Linked DNA regions of Homo sapiens. The protein of the gene in region 1 interacts with the protein of each later gene in a biochemical or structural test. Each region holds a gene or a part of one and is shown in the gene's direction. Other genes may lie near its edges. The genes, in order: PKN2, HTRA1, DLG4, GRID2IP, PDZK1, GRIP1 and RHOA.

What was found.
Region 2: the proteins of PKN2 (region 1) and HTRA1 interact in a test that uses a peptide from one of them, tested with the Homo sapiens proteins (one large-scale study listed by IntAct).
Region 3: the proteins of PKN2 (region 1) and DLG4 interact in a test that uses a peptide from one of them, tested with the Homo sapiens proteins (one large-scale study listed by IntAct).
Region 4: the proteins of PKN2 (region 1) and GRID2IP interact in a test that uses a peptide from one of them, tested with the Homo sapiens proteins (one large-scale study listed by IntAct).
Region 5: the proteins of PKN2 (region 1) and PDZK1 interact in a test that uses a peptide from one of them, tested with the Homo sapiens proteins (one large-scale study listed by IntAct).
Region 6: the proteins of PKN2 (region 1) and GRIP1 interact in a test that uses a peptide from one of them, tested with the Homo sapiens proteins (one large-scale study listed by IntAct).
Region 7: the proteins of PKN2 (region 1) and RHOA form a complex in vitro, tested with the Homo sapiens proteins (2 studies listed by BioGRID, with this or other methods).

Annotation. Positions count from the first base shown.
Region 1 is NC_000001.11:88,774,773-88,778,272, forward strand, and holds part of PKN2 (serine/threonine-protein kinase N2), read left to right. Parts: intron 1-3,500. UniProt on the Homo sapiens protein: PKC-related serine/threonine-protein kinase and Rho/Rac effector protein that participates in specific signal transduction responses in the cell.
Region 2 is NC_000010.11:122,485,553-122,489,052, forward strand, and holds part of HTRA1 (serine protease HTRA1 precursor), read left to right. Parts: intron 1-3,349; coding exon 3,350-3,449; intron 3,450-3,500. UniProt on the Homo sapiens protein: Serine protease with a variety of targets, including extracellular matrix proteins such as fibronectin. HTRA1-generated fibronectin fragments further induce synovial cells to up-regulate MMP1 and MMP3 production.
Region 3 is NC_000017.11:7,207,628-7,211,127, reverse strand, and holds part of DLG4 (disks large homolog 4), read left to right. Parts: intron 1-2,888; coding exon 2,889-2,954; intron 2,955-3,500. UniProt on the Homo sapiens protein: Postsynaptic scaffolding protein that plays a critical role in synaptogenesis and synaptic plasticity by providing a platform for the postsynaptic clustering of crucial synaptic proteins.
Region 4 is NC_000007.14:6,548,662-6,552,884, reverse strand, and holds the start of GRID2IP (delphilin), read left to right. Parts: upstream 1-1,423; 5' UTR 1,424-1,448; coding exon 1,449-1,877; intron 1,878-4,223.
Region 5 is NC_000001.11:145,670,485-145,673,426, reverse strand, and holds the end of PDZK1 (Na(+)/H(+) exchange regulatory cofactor NHE-RF3), read left to right. Parts: intron 1-406; coding exon 407-697; intron 698-1,787; coding exon of another isoform or gene 1,788-1,820; exon of another isoform or gene 1,821-1,937; coding exon 1,938-1,991; 3' UTR 1,992-2,162; coding exon of another isoform or gene 2,163-2,183; 3' UTR 2,184-2,442; downstream 2,443-2,942. UniProt on the Homo sapiens protein: A scaffold protein that connects plasma membrane proteins and regulatory components, regulating their surface expression in epithelial cells apical domains.
Region 6 is NC_000012.12:66,389,077-66,392,576, reverse strand, and holds part of GRIP1 (glutamate receptor-interacting protein 1), read left to right. Parts: intron 1-74; coding exon 75-269; intron 270-3,500. UniProt on the Homo sapiens protein: May play a role as a localized scaffold for the assembly of a multiprotein signaling complex and as mediator of the trafficking of its binding partners at specific subcellular location in neurons.
Region 7 is NC_000003.12:49,377,477-49,380,976, reverse strand, and holds part of RHOA (transforming protein RhoA isoform 1 precursor), read left to right. Parts: intron 1-3,500. UniProt on the Homo sapiens protein: Small GTPase which cycles between an active GTP-bound and an inactive GDP-bound state.

The DNA of each region.
Region 1 (3,500 bases):
ATCATAGCTCACTGTAACCTCAAACATCTGGGCTCAAGCAATCCTCCTGCCTCAACCTCCTGAGTAGCTAGGAGTACGGGAACGTGCCACCACACCTAGCTAATTTTTAGTTTTTTGCTAGCAATGGCGTCTCACTGTGTTGCTCAGGCTTGTCTCAAACTCCCGGCCTCAAGTCATCTTCCCACCTCAGACTTCCAAAGTGTTGGGATTATAGGCGTGAGCCACTATGCCCAGCCTCTATTCTTACTTTTCTTATTCCCTTCTTGCTCCCTTTTATGAGATAGATAGATATATATATTCTCCCACCTCAGCCTCCCTAGTAGCTGGGAGTACAGGTGCACACCACCACGCTCAGCTTATTTTATTTTTTTTGTAGAGATGGGGTTTCTCTGTGTTGCCCAGGCTGGTCTTCAACTCCTGGGCTCGAGCAATCTGTCCACCTTGGCCTCCCAAAGTGCTAGGATTACAGGCATGAGCTACTTATGCCTGGTCTTTCACTAAATCTTGAACTCCTCGCAACCACTCACCTCACTTCCTCCGTAGTTTTGCCTTTTCCACAATGGTCATACAGTTGGAATCTTAACAGTATGTAGCCTTTTCACATTGGTTTCTTTCACTTAGTAATATGCATTTAAGTTTCCTCTATGTCTTTCCATGCTTTGATAGCTCATTTTTGGTTTTGTGCTGAATAATACTCTATTGTGTGGATGTACCATAATTTATTTATTCATTCATTTACCGAAGGACTTCTTGGTTGCTTCCAGGTTTTGGCAGTTATGTATCAAGCTGTTATAAACATCCATGTGCGGGTTTATTATTTTCTTAGTGATTACCCCAATGATTATAACTAATGTCCTAAATTTATTATAATCTTATCTTTAGTAGCCTACAAAAAACTCTTTGACTGTGCCCTTGTTATATTGTCACAAACTCTCTTTATGCACCATATACCCATTAACATAGGCTATAAATATTGTTTTATGCATTAGTCTTTTAAATCATAAAGGAAACAAAAAGAAGAGTTACTTAAAATACAGAAATATTGGCTTCTGGCCAGGCGCAGTGGCTCACGCCTGTAATCTCAGCACTTTGGGAGGCCGAGGCGGGTGGATCACGAGGTCAGAAGATCGAGACCATCCTGGCTAACATGGTGAAACCTCATCTCTACTAAAAATACAAAAAAAAATTAGCCGGGCGTGGTGGCAGGCCCCTGTAGTCCCAGCTACTCAGGAGGCTGAGGCAGGAGAATGGCGTGAACCTGGGAGGCGGAGCTGGCAGCGAGCCGAGATCGTGCCACTGCACTCCAGCCTGGGTGACAGAGCGAGACTCCGTCTCAAAAAAAAAAAAAAAATACTGGCTTCTATATTTACTTATGTAGTTAATTTTACCTGCGTTTGTCTTCCTTTTTTCCTTTCTCTCTCCCTCCCTCCCCCTCCCCCTACCCCCTCCCCCTTGCCCTCCCTGACACTGCCCCCACCCCGCCCCACCCGTCACTTCTCCCATCCTTCATTTCAATCTAAAAGGCTTCTTTAGCATTTCTTATGGGCGGGTCTCCTAGTGTCTACCTCCCTTAGCTTTTGTTATCTAGGAATCTCTTTCTTTTCTTTTTTTGAATGATAGTTTGGTATATATATAGAATTCTTGGCTGGCAATTTTGTTTTTTTCCAGCACTTAAAAAAATGTCCAACTAGGCACAGTGGCTCACACCTATAATCCCAGCACTTAAGGAGGCCGAGACGGGTGGATCACTTGAGGTCAGGAGTTTGAGACCAGCCTGGCCAGCATGGTGAAACCCCATCTATACTAAGAATACAGAAATTAGCCAGGCATGATGGCGCATGCCTGTAATCCCAGTAACTCAGGAGGCTGGGGCAGGAGAATCGTTTGAACGCGGGAGGCGGAGGTTGCAGTGAGCCAAGATCATGCCACTGCACTCCAGCCTGGGTGACAGAGTAAGACTCTGTCTTAAGAAAAAAAAAAAAAGTCCTCCTGCTTCCTCCAGGCCTTTATGTTTTGTGATGAGAAATCCACTGTTAATGTTACTGAGGATCCCTTGTAAGTGATGAATTATTTTTGTCTTGTTGCTTTCAAGCTTTTCTTTGTTTTTTCACAGTTTAATTATAATGTGTCTTAGAGTGGATCTTTTTGAATTTATTCTACTTAGATTCTTTGAGCTTGATGTGTAGGTTCTTGTCTTTCATCAGATTTGGGAAGTTTCCAATCATTTCTTCAAATGTTCTTTCTTCTCCCTCTGAGACTTTGATTTTTGCCTACATTGGTGTGCTTTATGGTATTTCTCTTAGACTCTGATTTTCTTCATTATTTTTTCTTTCTGCTCTTAAGACTAGACAAGTGCAATTGATCTACCTTCAAATTGGCTCACTTTTTCTTCTGCCTGCTCAAATCTTGTATTGAACCTCTCTAGCAAATTTTTTCATTTTTGTTATACTTTTCAATTCCAGAATTTCTGTTTGGTTCTTTTTTATAATTTTTAAATCCATATTGATGTTCTCTATTTGTAGACACATCACTTTTCTTGTTTCCCCTAGATATTTGTCCATGGTTTCTTTTAGATTTTTGAGCATCTTAATTTAGTAAGTCCAACATGTCTTGACTTCCCCAGGGTCAGTTTCTGTTAATTTCTTTTTTCTGTGAACTGACCGTATTCTGTTACTGTGCTTGCTTCATAATTCAAGTACTTCATTTCCTTAGTATACTTACTCACAAATCAGATTTTACTCTTTCCAAAGATTTCATTTTTCTGCTATATGTTGAATGTAGTTGTTTGCCTAGTAACTTTTATAATCTATTTTGTAGAGACTATTCTTTCTCATGTATTACCCCTGAGGTGTCTATTTCATTAATATATTGTACACCAAAATAAAATTCTAAGCCACCCAACTAAATGAATGGACCCCCTCCTCTCAGCCAATGGCATTCTAAAGTAAACCTGAAACACTAGTTCAGGTCGTGCTGGGAATGGGTGGTTTGGACATGCCTCATTATGCCTTCCTCCCTTTGGAATTCAGGTACTGCAGACCAGCATTAACATCAAAACAGAGACCTTAAGACTGACTGAACAGACTCTTTCAGTAGATAAGAAACATTTACAGTCTCTTCTTTCTGAAGCCTGCTATCTGGAGGTTTCATCTACAAAATGAGAACCTGGGTCTCCACAACCCCTTATCTTAACAGCACTCTTACAATACTCCCTTGTATTGATTCCAGGTCTTTAGATAAACTCTTTCTACCAGTTGCCAATCAGAAGATCTCTGAATCCACCCGTGACCTGAAAATCCCTACTTCGAGTTGTCCATCTTTTCTGGACCCAACTAATGTACCTTTTACATGTATTGATAGATGGCTTATGTCTCCCTAAAATGTACAAAACCAAGCTGTAACCCAACCACCTTGGGCACGTGTTGTCAGGACCTCCTGAGGCTGTGTCACGTATATCCTTAATCTTGGCAAAATAAACTTCTAAATTGAGACCTGTCTCA
Region 2 (3,500 bases), on another chromosome or scaffold:
GGCTGCTCAGTGGACTGAGGCTGGAACTGGGCCTTCCAGTGGCCAGGCCAGATCCTCCTTGATCTCCCTTGTTGCTTTCCTGGTGGGAAGACCCTGGAACCACTTTATGTGACTGTGTGAGAAGGGAACTGCCTCTCATTTTACCCAGCAAAATCCACCTTCAATCCATCTTCATTTTTGCCCCTGGTGTGGGCAAATTCTCCCATACCTAATTCAGGAAGCCAGAAAGAGGAAGTGAGTTAATGATCCTTAGTGGGAAGGCGCTGGTAATGGTCCTTCTTGTGAGAGTTTCTGAAACACCACGCTGTCTCTGTGTTCTGGCCTGGCTGGAGTTAAACCTCTTCTTGGCCTTTCCCCAGGAAGCTGGTCTGAGGAAGCCCAGATGCGTTTGTTTACAGCTGTCTGGTGACATTCGCCAGGCTCTGTTTTCAGAAGGAACATTTCCATTCCCTTATTTACACCTCCCATTGGAGTGCTCGGGGGGACACACCAATTATTTGCAACTACCTGGAAACCTAGGAGGGTAGCAGATCTGTAGGAGGCCAGTGTTGAAGTGAGAAGCTGTAGATCTGGTGACACTGTGGGCTTGGGAGGGCTTGCCCAGATCTGTTACTTATACTCTCTATTAAGAAACTTCAGTGTCCATGGAGAAGTTATTTAAAGTCTGCGAGCCTCAGTTTCCCCATATATAATATGGGAAGGATACCTGATTTTCCTATTCCACATGAAGGTAGAAAAAATTAAATTAAGGCAGCCAATGAAAGGGTTTTGAAAGCAAAAATAATAATATGATACTGTTCTGAATTTGTTAAATTATTCTTCCAAGTAGTTGCAGATCTTTTTCTGTACCTTAGAAAAAAACCATGCTATGTAAAAGGAGATGATTCCAATCTTTAAATAAAGCAACTCAGAGGTCAGGGGCTAGGACAGAAAACGGCCCTTTGTTCACAGAAGCGCTCTCACTTCCAAGAAAGCAAGCGTGGGAGAGGCAGGTGGTCCTCCCGATGTCCCTGTGCCCCATGGTGTCAAGCTGGGTTACTATGGCCCTTCGTGACCCAGTGCAGCAGGGATGTGGGAACCAGTGGGTGTGAAGCTGTGACGGGTCACAAGAGGGCTGGGACGTCTCACAGCTTTTACTTATAGCCTAGAGCCTGGGGAAGGGTTGCCACTCTAGTGATGAGAGAGGCGTGTGTGTGTGTGTGTGTATGCGTCTGTATGTATGTGTGCATTTGCATGTATATATGTGTGACTGTATGTATGTGCACATCTGTGAGTATATGAATGTGTGTGGAAGTGTGTATAGGTGTTTATGTGACAGTTTGTGTGTAAATGTGGGTGTATGTGTGGGTGTGTTTATGCATGTACATCTGTGGGTGTGTATGCATAGTGTGTATGTGTGAGTTTGTGTGTGTGTGTGCATTTGCATCTCTGTGTATATATGCATGTGTGTTAGGGGCAGGCACACAGGCCTGTTGGTAAATGAGACACAAAATACCTACAAAATACAAAATGTGAGACAGGAAATACAAGCCCCAGTTACTCATTTTTCAGTGCAACAGACATAAGATTACCATGTGAAATTGCTATGAAAGTTTCCGAAAGCTTCCTGTCAATTCGTAGTGAGCAGCTAGCAGAGGAGTGCGGGTCCCTGGAGCCTGCTTGTGCAACGCTGAGCTAGTCCAAGGGGGAAGAATGGGGTGCATGGCTCTCAGCTGCAGACCAGCCTGGAACCTCTCCAGCCTGCTTTAGCAGAGACTTGTTAAGAGGTAGCAGCAGGTGGCAAGATTAGGAGCCGGAGTAGTAGGCTAAGGCTGCACTTCCAGGGACACACTGCCTCTGCCACCACCCGTGCCACGAAAATGGGAGCCCAGGACCCTGAATCTCTAGCAGTCCGTTTCTGAATCAGTTACCTTGGGTATGTGCCTCTGGTTGATGGAAACTAACTTGTAGCCCTGCTGGGTGAGAGCCTCACATCGGGACATGTGACAGCTTTGTTGAAAGTAGCTTTGGAAACGCCCACCACGTGGGGCCACTCACTGTAATATAAACGGTCATGCATCACTGAGCAACAGGGATACGTTCTGAGAAATGCGTCGTTAGGCGATTTCATCACTGTGGGAATGTTACAGAGTGTGCCTACGCAAACCTAGATGGCAGAGCCCACTCCACACCTAGGCCAGATGGCAGAGCCTGTTGTTTCTAGGATGCACGCCCGTACAGTAGGTTACTGTACTGAATACTGTAGGCAGTTGTAACAATGGTGAGTATTTGTGTATTCAAACATAGAAAAGGTATAGTAAAAACAATGGTGTTATGGTCCGCGGCTGGCTGAAACGTTATGTGGTGCATGACTGTAGGTATAAAGCATTACAGTTGTTTGATTTTTCTCTTTTTCTCACCCACAGTCTTAAGGCACCTCTTATGCCTTTTGTCTGGGATGTCCCGGGCAGGGTTGGAACGTGTGGTTAAGGCATGGCGGAAACTGCTTTGGGGACAGACGATGGCCTCAGCTTGCCTTGGGGTGTCAGTGGGAAAGATAGGAGCTGCCCCTTTGCCTTCGTGTTTCTTCGTAATAATCTCAGATGTACCCGTCTGGTGGGCCTCTCCTAGAAAAAGCCCCGGTGCTCTTTGCTCCTGCGGTGTTTCTCAGGAGGGTTGTTGCTTCTTTGTAATGGTGGGGACTCAGGGAAGGGACGCAGGCAGAGGGTGATGCCACATCAAAAAGGGACCCTTGGCTGGGTGTGGTGGCTTACGCCTGTAATCCTAGCACTTTGGGAGGCCGAGGCAGGTGGATCACCTGAGGTCAGGAGTTCGAGACCAGCCTGGCCAACGTGGTGAAACCCGGTCCCTAGTAAAAATACAAAAATACAAAGGTGGTGGGTGCCTGTAATCCCAGTTACTCAGTAGGCTGAGGCAGAAGAATCGCTTGAACCGGAGAGGTGGAGGTTGTGATGAGCCAAGATTGCGCCATTGCACTCCAGCCTGGGTGACAGAGTGCGACTCCATCTAAAAATAAACTGAAAAAAAACAAAAAACAAACTTGGGCCATCAGCTTCTTGGAAAGGCTGGTGTGAGGTTGAAGCATTTGCTGGTGCCTCTGCTCAACGTTTTTGTGGTGAACCTGAGCAAAGAGGTTATCATTAGTGGATTTTACTGCCTTACCTGGGTGGGCACTCCCTTGGGAGGTGGATGGACATTTGCAGCTGAGCCCAGGTGGGGGAATTGCGCTCACTCCGCCTTCAGAATTCCAAAGGCTGGGCATGCATCTTGGCTTCCTCTAACCCATGTCTTTCTCTAGGTGGCCACAGCAGAGTGTCATTAAGTATCTATTCTTTGCTTTTGTTCTCAGGGCAGGAAGATCCCAACAGTTTGCGCCATAAATATAACTTTATCGCGGACGTGGTGGAGAAGATCGCCCCTGCCGTGGTTCATATCGAATTGTTTCGCAAGTAAAGAGAGCCTTCCTTTTTCCTATAACCTCCGAAGCTTTCACCGCCACT
Region 3 (3,500 bases), on another chromosome or scaffold:
CCCCTCCCGACGTTTCTCCCCGCCCCCCTACATGTACGTCGAAAATTTCCAGAGACTGAACCTAGTCCCTAACCTCTTCCAGCCACATTCTGGAAACCCTGGCACCCATTTCTTGTTCCCCATTTTCTCCATGTTGCCTCCCAATCCTGAGGAGCCTTTTCTTCAGTGCCAGACACCACCCTCCCTCCATGGGGGTGGGGCAGGGAGAGGTATTGGGGGCTCGCTGAGATAAAAGTTTACCTTCATTTCCTCCCTAGAATAAATGATGAAATGGCCCTCCTCATGTTTCCATTTTCTTTGGGTGCACGCTGACATTTCCTCCTCAGATTCAGGAATTTTCTCTCTGAGGTGGAGTGAAGATGGAGAGGCACTGGACTCAAACCCTCCCCCAGACTCCAAAACTTGGAGCTTTGGTCCTAATTTACCTTGCAGGGAATTGGAGGCCTTGTGAAGGAAGAGTGGATAGCGGAGAGCGGCTTCCACCCCTTCCCCCAGGTCTCAATTCTGGGGCTTGCCCCTCAGCTTGTGCACTGCCCAGGTAGAAGACCACCTTCTCAGGATGTGGAATGAACAGTCTCTGTTGGTTCATAGAACTCCTTTATTCAAGACAGCTCAGCCTTGGAGGAGGGCTATTTTGTGTGTTCTCCTATTTTCCTTCTCTACTTTTTGTGCCCATCGGATTGAAATCTGGAGTTCAGGATTCTCTCCAAGTCTGTGGCCCAGAGAATAGACTCAATCTTGCTGAGCCCGTTTTCCTTCTTTAAGACTCTTTAAATGTATCAGGGTGCTTCTTGATTTGAGTTGTCTCTGTGTTCTGGGTTTGAGAGTTTTCGTGCTGACAGGACCACTTCCCTTCTCCCATTCTCTTACTGTACCCTTACTCTACAGCCAAAGTTGTGTTATATTCTCAGCCTTGATTCATCATCTTTAACATTTTCAGAATCCTACTCAAGGATTGGCCATTGACCTTGATAAGCTTCCTCCCATTTGATCTCGCAGCTGCTGCCCTCTAAGTATTAGGGCACTCTCAGCCTCTCAGAAACTTTTGGGAGGGAAATTCTGCTCGCCCTCTCTCTTTTTTGTTTTGGAGATGGAGTCTCACTCTGTCGCCAGGCTAGAGTGCAGTGGCATGATCTCGGCTCACTGCAACCTCCGCTTCCCAGGTTCAAGCAATTCTCCTGCCTCAGCCTCCCATGTAGCTAGGATTACAGCCATGTGCCACCACGCCCAGCTAATTTTTGTATTTTTAGTAGAGATGGGATTTCACCATGTTGGCCAGGCTGGTCTCTGACCTCAGGTGATGTACCCACCTCGGCATTATAAGCATCAGCCACTGCTCCTGGCCTCTCTCTCTTTTTGAGACAGGGTCTTACTCTGTTGCCCAGGCTGGAGTGCGGTGGCGTGATCATGGCTCACTGCAGCCTCCACCTCTTGGGCTCAAGCAATCCTCCCACCTCAGCCTCCTTAGCAGTTGGGACTACAGGTGTGCACCACCATGCCTGGCTAATTTTTGTATTTTTTGTAGACAGGGTTTCACTGTGTTGCCCAGGCTGGTCTCCAACTCCAGCTCCTGGGCTCAAGCTGTCTGCCTGCCTCAGCCTCCCAAAGTGCTGGGATTGCCGTGCCTTCTCTTTTTACCCATGTGTACTGGGCGGTGCATTCTGTCTTCTTCAGTTCCTGAGGGATCCCTGCGTATGATACCTTCCCCTTCCTGAACCTGGAGCTTGGAGGGTCAGTCTCTGTGGAGGCCCGTTCCAGAGGAGAGGAGCAGGCGAGGGCAGAGGCGGACACGGAAGGACCCAGGCAGAAACGCTGTCTTCTTCTGCTGTCTCCATCTGCCCTTTTCCTCCTTCTCTGGCCCCCAGTTAATCTCATTTTACTGTTGTCCCTATTAAGCTAGCACAGGAGGCCCTTGGGATGGCAGCTGATTAACTGGGCAGGGAGTCAGGGGTCATGTTGGGCCTTTCACCCCAAAAGAGCAGAGGGAGACCAGAAATTCACTCTGAGGCTCAGCATGCTACCCTCCTCCCCAACCAGGGAGGCTGGCACCCATTCTTGCCCCTGTCCTGAGCCCTGCTGTCTCTGTTCTTCCCCTTCCTCCCCCAGCCCATGCCCTTATAGCATAACCGGATTAGCTGGCTGGGCTGTGGGCTGTTGCAGGGGTAGGGCCAGACTCCCGGGGCCCCTCTGTTGACTGCTTGGAAACCAGCAAGGGCAGTGAACTGGACAGGCTTAGCCTTGTCCTGTCTCGGGGGCTGATACCAAGTACCTTCTGGTGGAAGGGGTGACTTCAGTCCTTGCCTAAGGAGTGCAAGGTAAAGGAGAGCCAATCACCTGTGGGGTAGAGGCTGCAATGGGGAGACTGAGGCCATGGAGGTGGGGCGCGGGGAGGATGCCATGCAGAGTAGGAGCAGCCAGAGGGGTAGGGGAGGGGAGGCTAGAACAAGAGTGAGTCTGAGATGGTGAGAGAAGCAAGGAAGTTGGGGACTGGAGGCAGAGAATGGAGATGTGAGTGTCGGGGCTAGAGCTCTGAGAAGCTGGAGGGACTCGAAGATGAAGGTGGTGGGGAAAGGGGTGAAGACACAGATGCCAGAGGGGCTATGCCCACCAGAAGGCCAGTGTCCCAGGATGTGAGGAGTAGGAGTTGGGGGATGGGATTGGGACCTGGGGATTGATGAGAGGTGCTGAGGCCCTGGCGGGAGAGGGGGCTGTTGGGAGAGTGGAGAGAGGGGAGCCAATGGGCTAGAGGAGAGGGAGGGGGAGGAGCTGGTCAGGCCCCAGGGCCTTCCGCACTGCACTGGCTGGGGGAAGAGGCGGCGGCCAGGGCGGCCAGCCTGGAGCCTGAGGCACCGGGCTGGCCCCAGTGACACCTCCGTCCCCATCCCCAGAAATACCGCTACCAAGATGAAGACACGCCCCCTCTGGAGCACAGCCCGGCCCACCTCCCCAACCAGGTAAACGCCCCCGAGCTGGTGCACGTGGCGGAGAGGAACTTGTCCCACCTCGAGGCTGGCCACGGGGTCGTGGGCCACGCCCACCTCTCCCCCTTCAAGGTAGGAGACCCTGGTGGCCCCCTCCCCAGTGCGGCCCTCGGAGCCTCGGAGCTGCAGCAATCCCTAAGGGCCGGTAGGGTGAGAGAGAGCCGTGGGGAGGGGGATGCTGGGACTGGGGGCGGGGGTTTGGGGCTTGGGCTCCTGGGGTCTGGGGGAGGGGGCGTTTGTGGGGCTGGAAACACCTTGGTCCCACAGAGGAGAAACAGGCCAGGCCAATGGGAGTGGATGTAAAGCCTAAAGCAAGAATGTGTGTGTGCGCGCGTGCCTGTGCGCGTGTGCTGTGTGTGTGCCTGTGCGTGTGTGCATGCATGCGTGCCTGTGTGTGTGCTGTGTGTGTGTGTGCGTGCGTGCGCCGTTTGTGTGCCTGTGCGTGTGCTGTATGCGTGTGTGTTGAGGTGTGTGCATCCCCCAAGAGGCCCCCACGCCTGGGACCTCTTCATTCCTTCA
Region 4 (4,223 bases), on another chromosome or scaffold:
AAAATTTTTTTTTAATTAGCTGGGCATGGTAGTATGCGCCTGTGATCCCAGCTACTCAGGAGGCTGAGGCAGGAGGATGACTTCAGCTTGGAAGGTCAAGGCTGCAGTGAGATATGATGGTGTTCCTGCATTCCAGACTGGGTGACAGAGTGAGACTTTGCCTCTAAAAAATAAAGCCCAAGAGGCTGGGCACGGTGGCTCACGCCTGTAATCACAGCACTTTGGGAGGCCAAGGCAGGTGGATCACCTGAGGTCAGGAGTTGGAGACCAGCCTGGCCAATATGGTGAAACCCTGTCTCTACTAAAAATACAAAAAGTAGCCGCGCATGGTGGTGGACACCTGTAATCCCAGCTATTCGGGAGGCTGAGGCAGGAGAATCGCTTGAACCCAGGAGTCAGAGGTTGCAGTGAGCCGAGATCACACCACTGCACTCCAGCCTGGGTGACAGAACAAGACTCTGTCTCAAAAATAAAATAAAATAAAATAAATGCCCAAAGATATGAATGGTCTCTGAGGGACCATTCTGCTCCAACATTCTGGACTTCCGTAAGTTTGTGATTCATGCCAGATCCCGAAAGGGAATTTTGGTAGATGGAGAGGGGTAAGAAGAGGGATTAAAGTGTAGGGAGTGAGGAGGGCCCATGGAAGCCAAGTGTACATGTAAGACAGTAAAACAGACCTGTGGAAGCAGGAGGGGCCCATGGAAAAGGATGTGGCCGCATTGGTTAAAAATCCAAGGCACTCAAAAGAAGACTTTAAGGAAGGGCCATTTTTCTTTTACACCCCCTCCCCAATTTTGTTTTTAGTAAAAACAAACAAACAAACAAACAAAAAACAAAAAAACAAGCCAGGCATGATGGTTCATGCCTGTAATCCTAGCACTTTGAGAGGCCAAGCAGGCAGATCACCTGAGGCCAGGAGTTCAAGACCAGCCTGGGTAACATAGTGAAACCCTGTCTCTACTAAAAATACAACAATTAGGCAAGCCAGGCACGGTGGCTCACGCCTGTAATCCCAGCATTTTGGGAGGCCAAGGCAGGCAGATCACCTAAGGTCAGGAGTTCGAGACCAGCCTGACCAACATGGAGAAACCCCGTCTCTACTAAAAATACAAAATTAGCCAGGCTTGGTGGCACATGCCTGTAATCCCAGCTTCTCAGGAGGCTGAGGCAGGAGAATCATTTGAACCCAGTAAGCGGAGGTTGCGGTGAGCTGAGATCACGCCATTGCACTCCAGCCTGGGCAACAAGAGCGAAACTCTGTCTTAAAAAAACAAAAACAAAACAAAACAAAAAAACATAGATGGAAGGGAATTGAGACAAAGACGGAGTCAGAGGGAGGAGGCAGAGATAAGTAGAGGCCTTCAGTGGCCCTGGGCCTTTGAGTGGCTTTGGAGCCATGGACAGAGCAGCAAGGAAATCCCTGTTCTGTCTCCAGTTCTAGGTGCATGGCCACCACTGCCACGCCGGCCACGAACCAGGGCTGGCCAGAGGACTTTGGCTTCCGGCTAGGTGGCTCTGGCCCCTGCTTCGTCCTGGAGGTGGCCAAGGGGAGCAGCGCGCATGCCGGAGGACTGCGGCCAGGAGACCAGATCCTGGAGGTGGAGGGGCTGGCGGTGGGCGGTCTGAGCCGCGAGCGCCTCGTGCGCCTGGCACGGCGCTGCCCACGTGTGCCGCCCAGTCTGGGCGTGCTCCCGGCTCCCGACGGTGGCCCCGGCCCAGGATCCGGCCCCGCGGCCCCGACCACAGTCTTGCGGGCCCCGCGGTGCGGCCGCGGCCTAGCTCTGGGCCGTGAGCTGCTTCGCCTGGCCGGCCGCAAGCGCCCGGACGCGGTGCACCGAGAGCGCAGGCGCAAGGCCCAAGAGTTCAGCCGCAAGGTAAGGCGCGGGGGTGGGAGGTGGGGGCGGGAAGGAGGGGGCTCATAATGTGGGCAGGGAGTGGGCCGGGCGCCGCTCTCCCAGGGCCAGAGGTAAGGAAACTTCTGGGGTCAGATTTAACAGAAATATGGGAATGCTCAACTTCAAAACCTTGCAAACAATTTTGCATTTTTTTTTTTTGAGACAGAGTCTCGCTCTGTCACCCAAGCTGGAGTGCAGTGGCCAGGTCTTGGCTCAGTACAACCTCTGCCTCCCAAGTTCAAGTGATTCTCCTGCCTCAGTCTTCCAGTAATTGAGATTACAGGCGTTTGCCACCACACCCAGCTAATTTTTTTTTTTTTTTTTTTTTTGGTATTTTTAGTAGAGACGGGGTTTCACCATGTTGGTCAGTCTGGTCTCAAACTCCTGACCTCAAGTGATCTGCCCACCTCTGCCTCCCAAAGTGCTGGGATTACAGGCATGAGCCACTGCGCCCGGCCTAATTTTGCAATTTTTATTCACTTGTGTTTCTTTTTTATTAAGGTACTATAGGTGTAAAGTGCATTAAGTGTGCAGCTCAATAAATTTTCCATATACATGCACCCTTGAATAACCACCCTCTTGATCAATATATAAAATAATAGGATATAGATAAAAATATAATGTAGACTATAGAATAATTGACACCAGAATGTTCCCACGTGCCCCTTTCTCTGTCTATCCTCCCCATTAGAACTTAACTGCAGGCCAGGTGCTAGATGTAATCCTAGCATTTTAGGAGACCAAGGTGGGAGGATCACTTGAGACCCTGAGTTCAAGGCCAGCCTGGGCAACGTAATGAGACACCATCTCTACAAAAAAAATCAAAAACTAGCTTGGCATGGTGGTGCATGCCTTATAGTCCCAGATACTCAGGAGACTGAGGCAGGAAGATCGCTTCAGCCTGGGAGTTTGAGGCTGCAGTGAGCCATGACTGCACCACTGCATTCCAGCCTGGGTAACGGAGTGAGACCGCATCTCTAAAATAAAAAGATAAAATAAAAAGAGCCACAGATATCGCTTCTTGGCCCTTCATCTAAGATCAAGTGTAAAAGAGCCAGTGGGGTGAGGTGGCTCACGCCTGTAATCCCAGCACTTTGGGAGGCTGAGGAGGGCTGATGACTTGAACTCAGGAGTTTGAGACCAGCCTGGGCAATGTGGTGAAATCCCATCACTATCAAAAATATAAAAAAAAAAAAAACCAGCCAGGTGTGGTGGCGCGCGCCTGTGGTGCCAGATACTCAAGGGTGTTGAGGTGGGAGGATTACTTGAGCTTGGGAGACGGAGGTTGCAGTGAGCTGAGATCATGCTACTGCACTGCAGCCTGAGTGACAGAGTGAGACTCCATTCCCCTCCCCGCCATTCCCCACCTCCAAAAAAATGTAAAAGAATTCCGCCTGTTCTAAGCCCCCACAAAACCAGGATTAGACCTGCCCTTGCACAGCGGCCTGGCTGGCTTGTTGGCTGCAGGAGGCCCTAGTTTGGCTTCACCAATCTGCCAAAGGCATTTCCTCTTGACTTTGGCACAAACCAGGCTGTGATAGACTGCAGGTGGAATATTAGCGTGGTCCTGAAGATTAAGAATGAGGAGCCTGGAATGGATCAGACCTCTAGCCACAAGAAGAACCCAAGGCCTGAGTCACCTGCAGGAAGTAGGGTGTGGCCACAAGCCAAGATGGAGGCACCATTTAGAGACCCAGGGCTGGGATGGAAAGAGGGAGGATAGAGTCGGTCTCAGGCCTGAATCCCAAGCAACCCCTGATTTGCAGGAACCTGCCATTTACTGGACAGATCCAGGCAATTCCAAGAAACCTGGGACGTGACATGGTTATAAAAGAAGAAGCTGCCTAGTATGGTTACAGCTACCCCAGGCCACTGACTAGGTCCCAGTACAGCAACCTCCCATGCCATTCACCTTCACTCCTGTCCTCCAGGGCTTTCAGATGGGGTCCTAAGGCCTTTATTTCACTAATACTTGAATGGAACAAAAAGTGATCCTGTGTGCGACTAGGAAATAGTCCGGAGCCAAGACACTCAGTCCCTACCCCTGCCTGGCTATCGGACCCCTGTGGACATGAAGCCTGGAAACTCAGTATTTGCTTGGCGGCTGGGACACTTAAGCTCATAGACTTTTTTTTTTTTTTTTTTGAGGCAGAGTCTCGCTCTGTCACCCAGGCTGGAGTGCAGTGGTGTGATCTCGGCTCACTGCAACCTCCACCTCCTGGGTTCAAGTGATTCTCCTGCCTCAGCCTCCCGCGTAGCTGGGATTACAGGCGTACCCCACCATGGCCAGCTATTTTTTTTTTCTGTATTCTTAGTAGAGATGGG
Region 5 (2,942 bases), about 57 Mb from region 1:
AGTTGACTGAACTCTAGTTGACAGTCACTATCAACCCTGATTGGCAGTCATATTTGTTTGCTTCTGTGCATTTGGCATAATGCCCCTTACCCTGTAGGGACTGATAAGAATCCCTAAAGCTTTCAAGTTGGGAGTGAAGAAGGGGGACCTATTTATCCCCCTTCATCCCAGAAGACATATGATGCTGAACCACTATTTATAATACCACTAATCATGTGAATATGGAAGTTATAGCCTTCATAAATATAAAAGCATTAGAACACCTTTCTCAACTTCTATACCTCAAGGAGAAATAATAACATGATTAAAAATAAATTCTTGAGCTCCTCATCTATTCTCTTAAGGAGAGCTAGTCTGATGTCCCCTTCTCTGTTTGAAATTGATAACTCAGAACTTCTGTTCACAGGTACAGAAGGGCGGTCCTGCTGACTTGGCTGGGCTAGAGGATGAGGATGTCATCATTGAAGTGAATGGGGTGAATGTGCTAGATGAACCCTATGAGAAGGTGGTGGATAGAATCCAGAGCAGTGGGAAGAATGTCACACTTCTAGTCTGTGGAAAGAAGGCCTATGATTATTTCCAAGCTAAGAAAATCCCTATTGTTTCCTCCCTGGCTGATCCACTTGACACCCCTCCAGATTCTAAAGAAGGAATAGTGGTGGAGTCAAACCATGACTCGCACATGGCAAAAGAACGGGTGAGTGGGGGCCTATTTCTTTTCGTGATCTAATTTACTAGAGTATGGGTACAGTCCCTATGAGTATATTTAATGTCTATGTTTGCCACAGATTTTTTTAAAACTAGAAAATGAAAATGTAAAGATAACTAACAAATCAAGTTATTGTAGAGGACAGGAGGCAGTATAAGAACAACAAATTTCTTACTTTCATAGCATGCAGCTGACAGCAACTGTCTAGAGCTAATAAATCAAGAAGTAAAAAGTTTATCAGTATTGTAATGGGAACCCCCAAAAGAGCCTGAATCGGATGATCTAGATATGAATTCTGGTTCTGTCATTTGTCAGCTGTGGGGAAATGGATTTATTTGTTCTGTTCCTCAGTTTTCCCACCCATAAAACAGGAATAATTTGTAGGATTGTTATCAGGATCATGTTAACTAAGATTAACTATATTAAAGTGCTTTGAATAGTGGCTGGCTCATAGTGAGCATGTAAGTGGTGACGGTTAAAGACAATATTGTTTAAAACAACTGACAGGTAATCCAGTTTTATTACTAGGAAAGATTAAGCATTCTCTATATTATTCTCTATATATTTGGATTAAATTTCTTGGTAAGTCTCAGTTTTATATTTTTGCCCAATTTTTCATAGATGAACTTGAGGTCGAAAAGTAAACTGACTTATCCAAGTTCATAAAGGAAATTTATAGCAAAGCCGAGACTCTAAAAAAGTTTAATTCAATGTTGTTCTTCTTTCCATTATATTAATTCTGCTAATGGGTGGAATATTCATTTTAATAAACTCAGTTTAATGAACACACACAATGCCCACTGATTTGTATTCAGGAATGCTTAATAAATACTATTAGTTGTATTAGTTGTCATTTAAAAATTCTGTAATTTCTCTTTAGGAAGTCAATATCCTAGTCTTATAAAAAAGAAATATACACAGACATTAAGGAATTTGTTAATGTGTCAAACAGCAAGTTGAAAACAATCAAGTGTAGAATTCAGGTCACCTGACTTCTAGTCATACCCAGATCATCTGATTCAGGCTCTTCTGGGGGTTCCCATTACAATACTGATAAACTTTTTACTTGATTTATCAGCTCTACACAATTGCTGTCAACTGCATGCTGTGAAAGAAAGAAATTCTAGTGAGTGACTCTACTCCCCGACTTAAGTCATGCAACTCTAGAATAGATCATCCCTCTTTCATTACTCTACCATTTGTAAATTCTTTGTTTTCTTATACACAGGCCCACAGTACAGCCTCACATTCTTCTTCCAATTCTGAAGATACAGAGATGTGATGAAAACAAGTAATAGCTTTGGCTGTTTATTTGATAGCTGTTTCTGGGTATTTAATAGGAATCCTTTCTCAAGGAATGAGTTGTGACCTGTTTACTGTCTCTTTAGAAGAAAAACTCCACTGGAAACCATTCACCATGTGTGATTGTCTTCTGTTATCATTTGTCTTACAGGCGGCTATTGCAGACGGCTAATTTATGCTTAACTTAGGAAGAGATAAGGCAAGAGCTAGATTTTTTTCATGTGATCTTTTCCAAGCTTCAACTTAACTTAACTACATTTCTCTGTATGATGATGTCTCTTACTTCTACAGGTTCCTTGAGCACCAAAGATGATTCATAACTCTGTATAGGTGACAGCTGCTTATAAAAGCATCTTAGCAGATAAGCCTATTAAAATTGTGCTTTTGTAACAATGTTGTGGTTGCTAGAATAAATACCATTAACAAATGCCTTTTGAGTATGCTTGATAGTGCTTTTGTTTTGGATTCACTTTTTATGCTTTAACCTTCATTTGCCTCTAGAAACCCAAAACACAATAAAGTACAGAATAAGACCTTAGTAATAAAATTCAGAATTTTCTTAAATTGCATGTCTGAGTGTTCTAAAAATTTTTCAACATTTCCCTTTCACAAGTGACTTATTCCCCCAGTTAAGTTATTCACGGTTTCACCCCACAGCGTGAGGGGCAGATAGAAAAAAAAAAAAGGAAACATCACTACCGAATTGAAAGTAGGGTATAATACTAAGTTCACAGGAAATCAAGAAAAAATGACATACCTGAAATCTCTCTTTTGGTAAAATCTATTTCAGGTGCATACCACCCCTTTCCCGGAAAAGAACAGATAACCTCTTTCTTGGTTATTTTAATGGGGCAGGATCAGATGAGGAGGTGTGGGATGCTAACTGATGTTAGATCACACAAGCATAATAAATACCAAGCTATGCTTGATA
Region 6 (3,500 bases), on another chromosome or scaffold:
CTAGCCACGGAGTATCTTGGTATATTTTTATTTAAATTTACTCTGATACTTAAACTCCTTTCCTGTCTATAAAGCCCAGTCAGCATCGAGCCCCAAGAAGTTCCCTATTTCTAGCCATTTGAGTGACCTGGGGGATGTGGAGGAGGACTCCTCACCAGCACAGAAGCCAGGCAAGCTCTCCGACATGTACCCCTCCACGGTGCCCAGTGTGGACAGTGCTGTGGATTCATGGGATGGGTCTGCAATAGACACCAGCTATGGAACTCAAGGTATGTCTTTACTTTGTCCCCCAGAGGACTTGTCATTGTTGAAGCCCATGCTTCTCCAAGATTCATCCTCTGCTCCATGAGGAGAATATCTTTCTTTAACTTGTGTCTGCTTTGGTGCAGCCATAATCATATTGAACACATTGAATACTTACACTCTGCTGGCCATGCATTTTCTTCTAGTGCTTATAAGGCATGAACCTTTACCAAACACTAACAGGCCTCCATTAGGTCTACTGATGGCCAAGTATCCCATCCAGGGCTTGTCCTTCAAGCTTAGATTAATGTGAGGCAAACCATACAATAAAGTGGCTCGTTCAATACAGGCCCCATTGCCTTATTTTTCAGCAAGCTTTCCACAAAGATGGATTGGGGAGTTTGGAAGAGGTGCATAAGAGATTAGCCAATGATTTGTGACTCTATTTATTCCTGCACACTCCTGACTTTTTTTTTTCTTTTAGAGACTGGGTCTCACTCTGTCACCCCAGCTAGAATACCCTGGCACCATCATAGTTCATTATAGTCTCAAACTCCTGGACTCAAGGGATCTTGCTGCCTCAGTCTCCTCAGTAGCTGAGACTATGTGCACACACCACCACACCCAGCTGATTTTTAAATTTTTGTAGATACGGGGTCTTGTCATGTTCTCCAGGCTGGTATCAAACTTCTGGCCTCCAGCAATCCTCCCATCTTGGCCTCCCAAAGTGCTAGGATAATAGGCATGAGCCACCATGCCCTTTCCCTGAATGTTTATAATTAGAGCACTATAATCACAATATAGGAAAGTATAGAGTAGATTTTTCTTCATAGGTGTCATCGTCATGTGAAGAAATACTATCTACATTAAAAAGCCTCACTCATGGAATATAAACACATAAAAGGTGTCAGACTGAATACAGAGCATAAACTAATAGCTTCTTTTAAAAAATATTTTCTTCCCAGTGATCCGTAGCATCAACAAGAGAAGTATGTCAAAACTTCTTGGTATTTCTCCTCATCTGAGCCTTACCTTCTCTCATGTTCTATGTAAATTCCAGCCTCTGAATCCCTTGTTTGCTCTGGGTTTCAGTCAGTCAAATAATAAAACACATAAACAGTTTAGAGAACACATTGGTGTGAGGGCTGCTTTGTCACTGAGTTAACTGTACTTTTTAGGAGTGTCTGTATCCAGTTTGCTCTCTCCTGGTTTTCCTAGTTTCCTTCTCTCAGCCTGCCTATGTTGTGTCACTCTCTGTTAAGTCCTCTGGTGAACAAAAAACAAAAATGGAAGGGAGAAAAAACTGGAAAAAAAAATGAAAGGAGATGATATTTCAAAGTTGTCAAGTTGTTACTTTCATTAGAGATGATACTGGAGTTAGGTGGGGAAAATACTTTGAACACCTAAGTAGAATTGGGGCTTTATCTGGCAATTAATTTTTCCAAGTCATAATACCTTGTGACAAGTTCACCTATGCCACCAAATAACAGACCTTCTGATTGCCTGAGAATTGATGGGCCACCAGAAGACACTGAGTAAAGGACAGAAGTCACATTCTATCAGAGTAGACTCAGGTTTATTTATCAATTTATTGTGTATTGGTTATTTATTTGTGTATTTTTTGTGTATTGCTTATTAATGTAGAGATATTTTTGTTACCAGAGATTTTTGTGAGGGTGCTATTGATATTAATTAGTTCTTCCCTGTAAGGTGATCTGTAAGACCTTAGCTACTCCATCCCTTGAAACCACAGACACAGGACCATGAGAAGCAAACTGAATATAGGACCTGCCCCTCACTAGTAAAAGATGAAAAACCATTTACTATTTGTGAAGCATTTTGAAATTTTGAATCATAGTCATAATATTACATTTTGCATTTATAATTTAGACATTTTTATGAGGTTGAAGGGAACTGAGGGATAAGTAGAGACAATGGCAATCAGGATAGAATCGAAGTACTCCAAGGTAATGAAAAAATAGTAATAACCCTTTATATATATAGAACACTCTAGAGTTTACAAAGCACTTTCACATAACTAATCCCCATTAATTCTTGTGACGAACATGGGAGCTGAAGGCAGGATTTCAGGTTTGGAAAGGGTTTAGGAGTCAGCTAGTCTGATGTCCAGTGCAGCCCTTGGTGCCAGGTCCTGCCTCACTGCACGCCAAGACACGCTGCATGGACTTGAATGCCCAAGGTGACAGGTTGTTCCTTGTGCTGAGGCAGCCCCCCATCTCCACGTAGCTCTGATGACTCTAAAGCTCTCACTTGTATTGAGCTGCAGTATGCCTAATAGTCCCGGCTATACCCTCAAGGTCATTCTGCACTAGACTAAAGCCTCTTCTCCTGACAGCCCCTTAGATACTCGAAGACAGCTATTGGGTCTCTGTTGAGGCTTTCCTTCTCCAAGCAAAATAGCCCCAGTTCCTTTAACTGTGTCTTCTATAATTTACTGACGAGTATCTGTATCGTCCTGTGGACCTCCCTTACGAATGTGCTTCAGTTTACCTGTGTACCCGTTAAAGTGTAACATTCAGAAAGGAAAATCACACAACAGCCCGACAGCCCGGAGCAAAGCAAGCTGGTCACTGGCATCATTGAAGACAGGAGAACTGATCAATGACACCTACCTCAACATAAGAATTTTAGTGGTCATGGCACATCTGTCACTCATTTTGCGCTTACAGTTTACCGAGATCTCAAAGTCTTGTGAATGTGTTTTTTTTTCTTTACCCGTGATATTCAGTTAAACTGCATCTCTCCAGATTGTGCTTGTGAGGTTGACTTTTTAAAAGCAAGGCACAGCTGGGTGCAGTGGCTCAGGCCTATATTCCCAGCACTTTGGGAGGCTGAGGTGGGCAAATCACCTGAGGTCAGGAGTTCAAGACCAGCCTGAGCAACGTGGCGAAACCCCATCTCTACTAAAAATACAAAAACTAGCCAGGCGTGGTGGCACACACCTGTAATCCCAGCTACTCGGGAGGCTGAGGCAGGAGAATCGCTTGAACCAGGAGGCGGAGATTGCAGTGAGCCAAGATCATGCCACTGCACTCCAGCCTGGGCAATAGAACAAGACTACGTCTCAAAAAAAATTAAAACAAAAATAAAAGCAAGGCATAGAACCACACTTTTATTTTTCCTATTCAATATTATGTTGTGAGATACAGCTTATCTCTCCAACCTGTCCCTCCAGCCTCTCAGCAGGCTCTCTGCCTTGTTCCAGGAAGCCCCTGCACATTCTCTCTGTTCCCTTT
Region 7 (3,500 bases), on another chromosome or scaffold:
GGATAAAATTCTATAATATCTGTATCTATATATATACACACACACGTATTCACTGCTGTATGTAATATTGTCCTGAGAATTCACAAATGAGTAATGGCAGCACTGTCAGCCCTCTGAGTTTTTTTGTTTTGTTTTCATTGTTTATTTTTGTCGTTGTTTGCCCTCTGAGTTTTCTTCTGGTACCCCTGTGGATTGTCTTATCCATTCTGGTTGGGGAACATACCCTTTAGACAATATAGTTTTGATAATGAGTATTTATTATTATTATTATTATTATTATTATTATTATTATTATTATTATTTTTGAGACAAGAGTCTCTGTCACCCAGGCTGGAGTGCAGTGGCATGATCTTGGCTCACTGCAACCTCCACCTCCCAGGTTCAAGCGATTCTCTTGCCTCACCCCACCACGCCTGGGTAATTTTAATATTTTTAATAGAGATGGGGTTTCATATGTTGGCCAGGCTGGTCTCAAACTCCTGACCTCGTGATCTGCCCGCCTCGGCCTCCCAGTGTGCTGGGATTACAGGCGTGAATCACCATGCCCAGCTGAGTGTATATAATTTAGGATTAGTTTGACTATAGGTAACAGAGACTTGAAAAATACCACCTTAAATAAGACAGTCATTTATTTCTCATTCATATGGAAGAAACATGGAAGGTAGGCAGTCTTGGGGCTGAGATGGTGGCTCCCAAGATCACCTGAGATCCAGGCTCCTTTTTACCTTTTGGTTCTTCCAGCCCCACGGTATGGCATTCATTCTCACATACCAGGATGGCTGCTTAGAAACCAGCCCTTACTTTAGATTTAAGCAGCAGGAAAGGAGGAGGATAATAAAGACTTCCCTTTAAGAAAGACTTTCTGGAAGTCCCACAACATACTGCTGATTCTCACATCTCATGGTACATGGCCATGTCTCCAAGGGAAGCTAGGAAGTGTAGTCTACAACAAAGTACATAGCTAAAAATCGAAGTATGGTCTAGGAGGGAAGGGCGGGAATTGGGATGGTTGACCATCACTGTCTGCCAGATGGAAGGAATCTGCAGATTTCTCTCTTTTTTCCCCCCACTGGGGGCGAGAGTGGTGGTAACAGCTTTATTGAAATATAATCCACATATCTTACAATTCACCTTTTTAAAGTGTGAATTATATATACTGTGGGCTGGGTGCGGTGGCTCACGCCTGTAATCCCAACACACTGGGAGAGACAGGCAGGAGGATCGCTTGACCTCAGGAGTTTGAGAGCAGCTGGGGCAACGTGGTGAAACCCGGTCACTACTAAAAATACAAAAAATTAGCCGGGTGTGGTGGCATGCACCTTTAGTTCCAGCTACTTGGGAGACTGAGATTGGAGGTTCACTTGAGCCTGGGGAGGCTAAGGTTGCAGTGAGTGGAGATCGCACCACTATACTCCAGCCTGGGCAACAGAGTGAGACCCTGTCTCAAAATAAATAAAATGTGTGAATTATATATACTATAATCAATAGTTTATAGTATATTCATAGAGTTGTGCAGCCATCACCACAATAATTTTGGAAAAATCTTTTTACCTGAGAAACTCCAGTATTCCATTAGTCATTTTCCATTTCTCTCCACCCCCAAGTCCCTGCCCTAGGCAACTACCAGTCTATTTTCTCTTTCTGAATTTGTTTATTCTGGACAATTTTATATAAATGGAATCATGCATGTTGGTTTTTGTGACTGGGTTCTTTCACTTATATAACATTTCCAAGATCTATCCATACTATAGCATATATCAGTACTTTATCCTTTATCGCTGAATAATATTCCATTCCATTGTATGGATATATTATATTCATCAGTTGTTGGATATTTGGGTTCTTTACATTTTTTGACAATATATTATGAATAATCCTGCTATGAATATTCATGTAGAGGTACAAGTTGTTATGTGGACATATGTTTTTGTTTCTCTTAGATATATACCTAGGAATAGAATTGCAGGGTCATACCTACTCACATCCTTTGCTCATTTTTTAATTGGATTAGATTATTTGTCTTTTTATTATTGAATTGTAAGAGTTCTTTATTTTTTAATTTTTTCTATATACTGTATTTAGGCCTGGGGAGGTGGCTTATGCTTGTAATCCCAGCACTTTGGGAGGCTGAATCGGGAGGATTGCATGAGCCCAGGAGTTTGAGACCAGCCTGGGTAATATAGTGAAACGCTATCTGTATAAAAATTAGTCAGCTGTGGTGGCAGGAGCCTGGTAGTCCCAGCTACTGGAGAGGTTGAGGTGGGAGGATCGCTTGAGTTGAGCCTGGGAGGCAGAGGCTGCAGTGAGCCAATATTGCACCACTGCATTCCAGCCTTGGTGACAGAATGAGACCCTTTCTGAAAATAACTACATAATAGAGAAACACATAGATAGGTTAGATAGGTACATAGATTGGATAGATGCGTAGATAGATGGGCAGTGGCTCACGCCTGTAATCCCTCAGCACTGTGGGAGGCCGAGGCGAGTAGATCACTTGAGCTCAGGAGTTGGAGACCAGCCTGGGAAACATGGCAAAACCCTGTCTCTGCCAAAAATACAAAAATTAGCTGGGCGTGGTGGCGCATGCCTGTGGTCCCAGCTGCTGGGGAATTTGAAGTGGGAGGATCACTTGAGCCTCGGAGGTGGAGATTGCATTGAGCCAAGATCACGCCACTGCATTCCAGCCTGGGTGACAGAGTGAGACCTCATCTCAAAAAAAAAAAAAAAAAAAAAAAAGATAGATGGATAGATAAATAGCGTACTTCATGTCAGAAGGAGTTCTCTCTTTTTTTTTTTTTTTTTTTTTAAGACACAGTTTCACTCTGTTGCCCAGGCTGGAGTGCTCTGTTGCCCAGGCTGGAGTGCAGTGGTACAATCTGGGCTCACTGCAACTTCTGCCTCCTGGGTTCAAGCGATTCTCCTGCCTCAGTCTCCCGAGTAACTGGGATTACAGGTGCCCACCACCACACCCGGCTAAGTTTTGAATTTTTTGTAGAAACGGGGTTTTGCTGGGTTGGTCAGGCTGGTCTCGAACTCCTGACCTCAAGTGTTCTGCTTGCCTCAGCCTCCCAAAGTGCTGGGATTACAGGTGTGAGCTACCGTGCCCAGCCCAAAAAGAGTTCTTTATGATTTCAACCTTGCAAGAGATCCTGAGCCAGACCACCAACCTAAGCTGCTTTTTTGTAGTTGAGTCATAAGAGTTTGAGACAAGGTTCCACTCTGTCACCCAGGCTGGAGTGCAGTGATGCAATCATAGCTCACCACATCCTCCACCTCCTGGGCTCAAGCAATCCTCCCACCTCAGCCTCCTTGGTAGCTGGGACTACAGGTGCATGCTACCACAACTGGCTGATTTTTTTTTTTTTCTTTTCCTTCTTTTTTTAGAGACAGTGTCTCACTGGGGTTCCCCAGGCTGGAGTGTAGTGATGCAATCTCAGCTCACTGCAGCTTCCACCTCCAGGGCTCAGGGGATTATCCCACCTGAGCCTCCCAAGTAACTG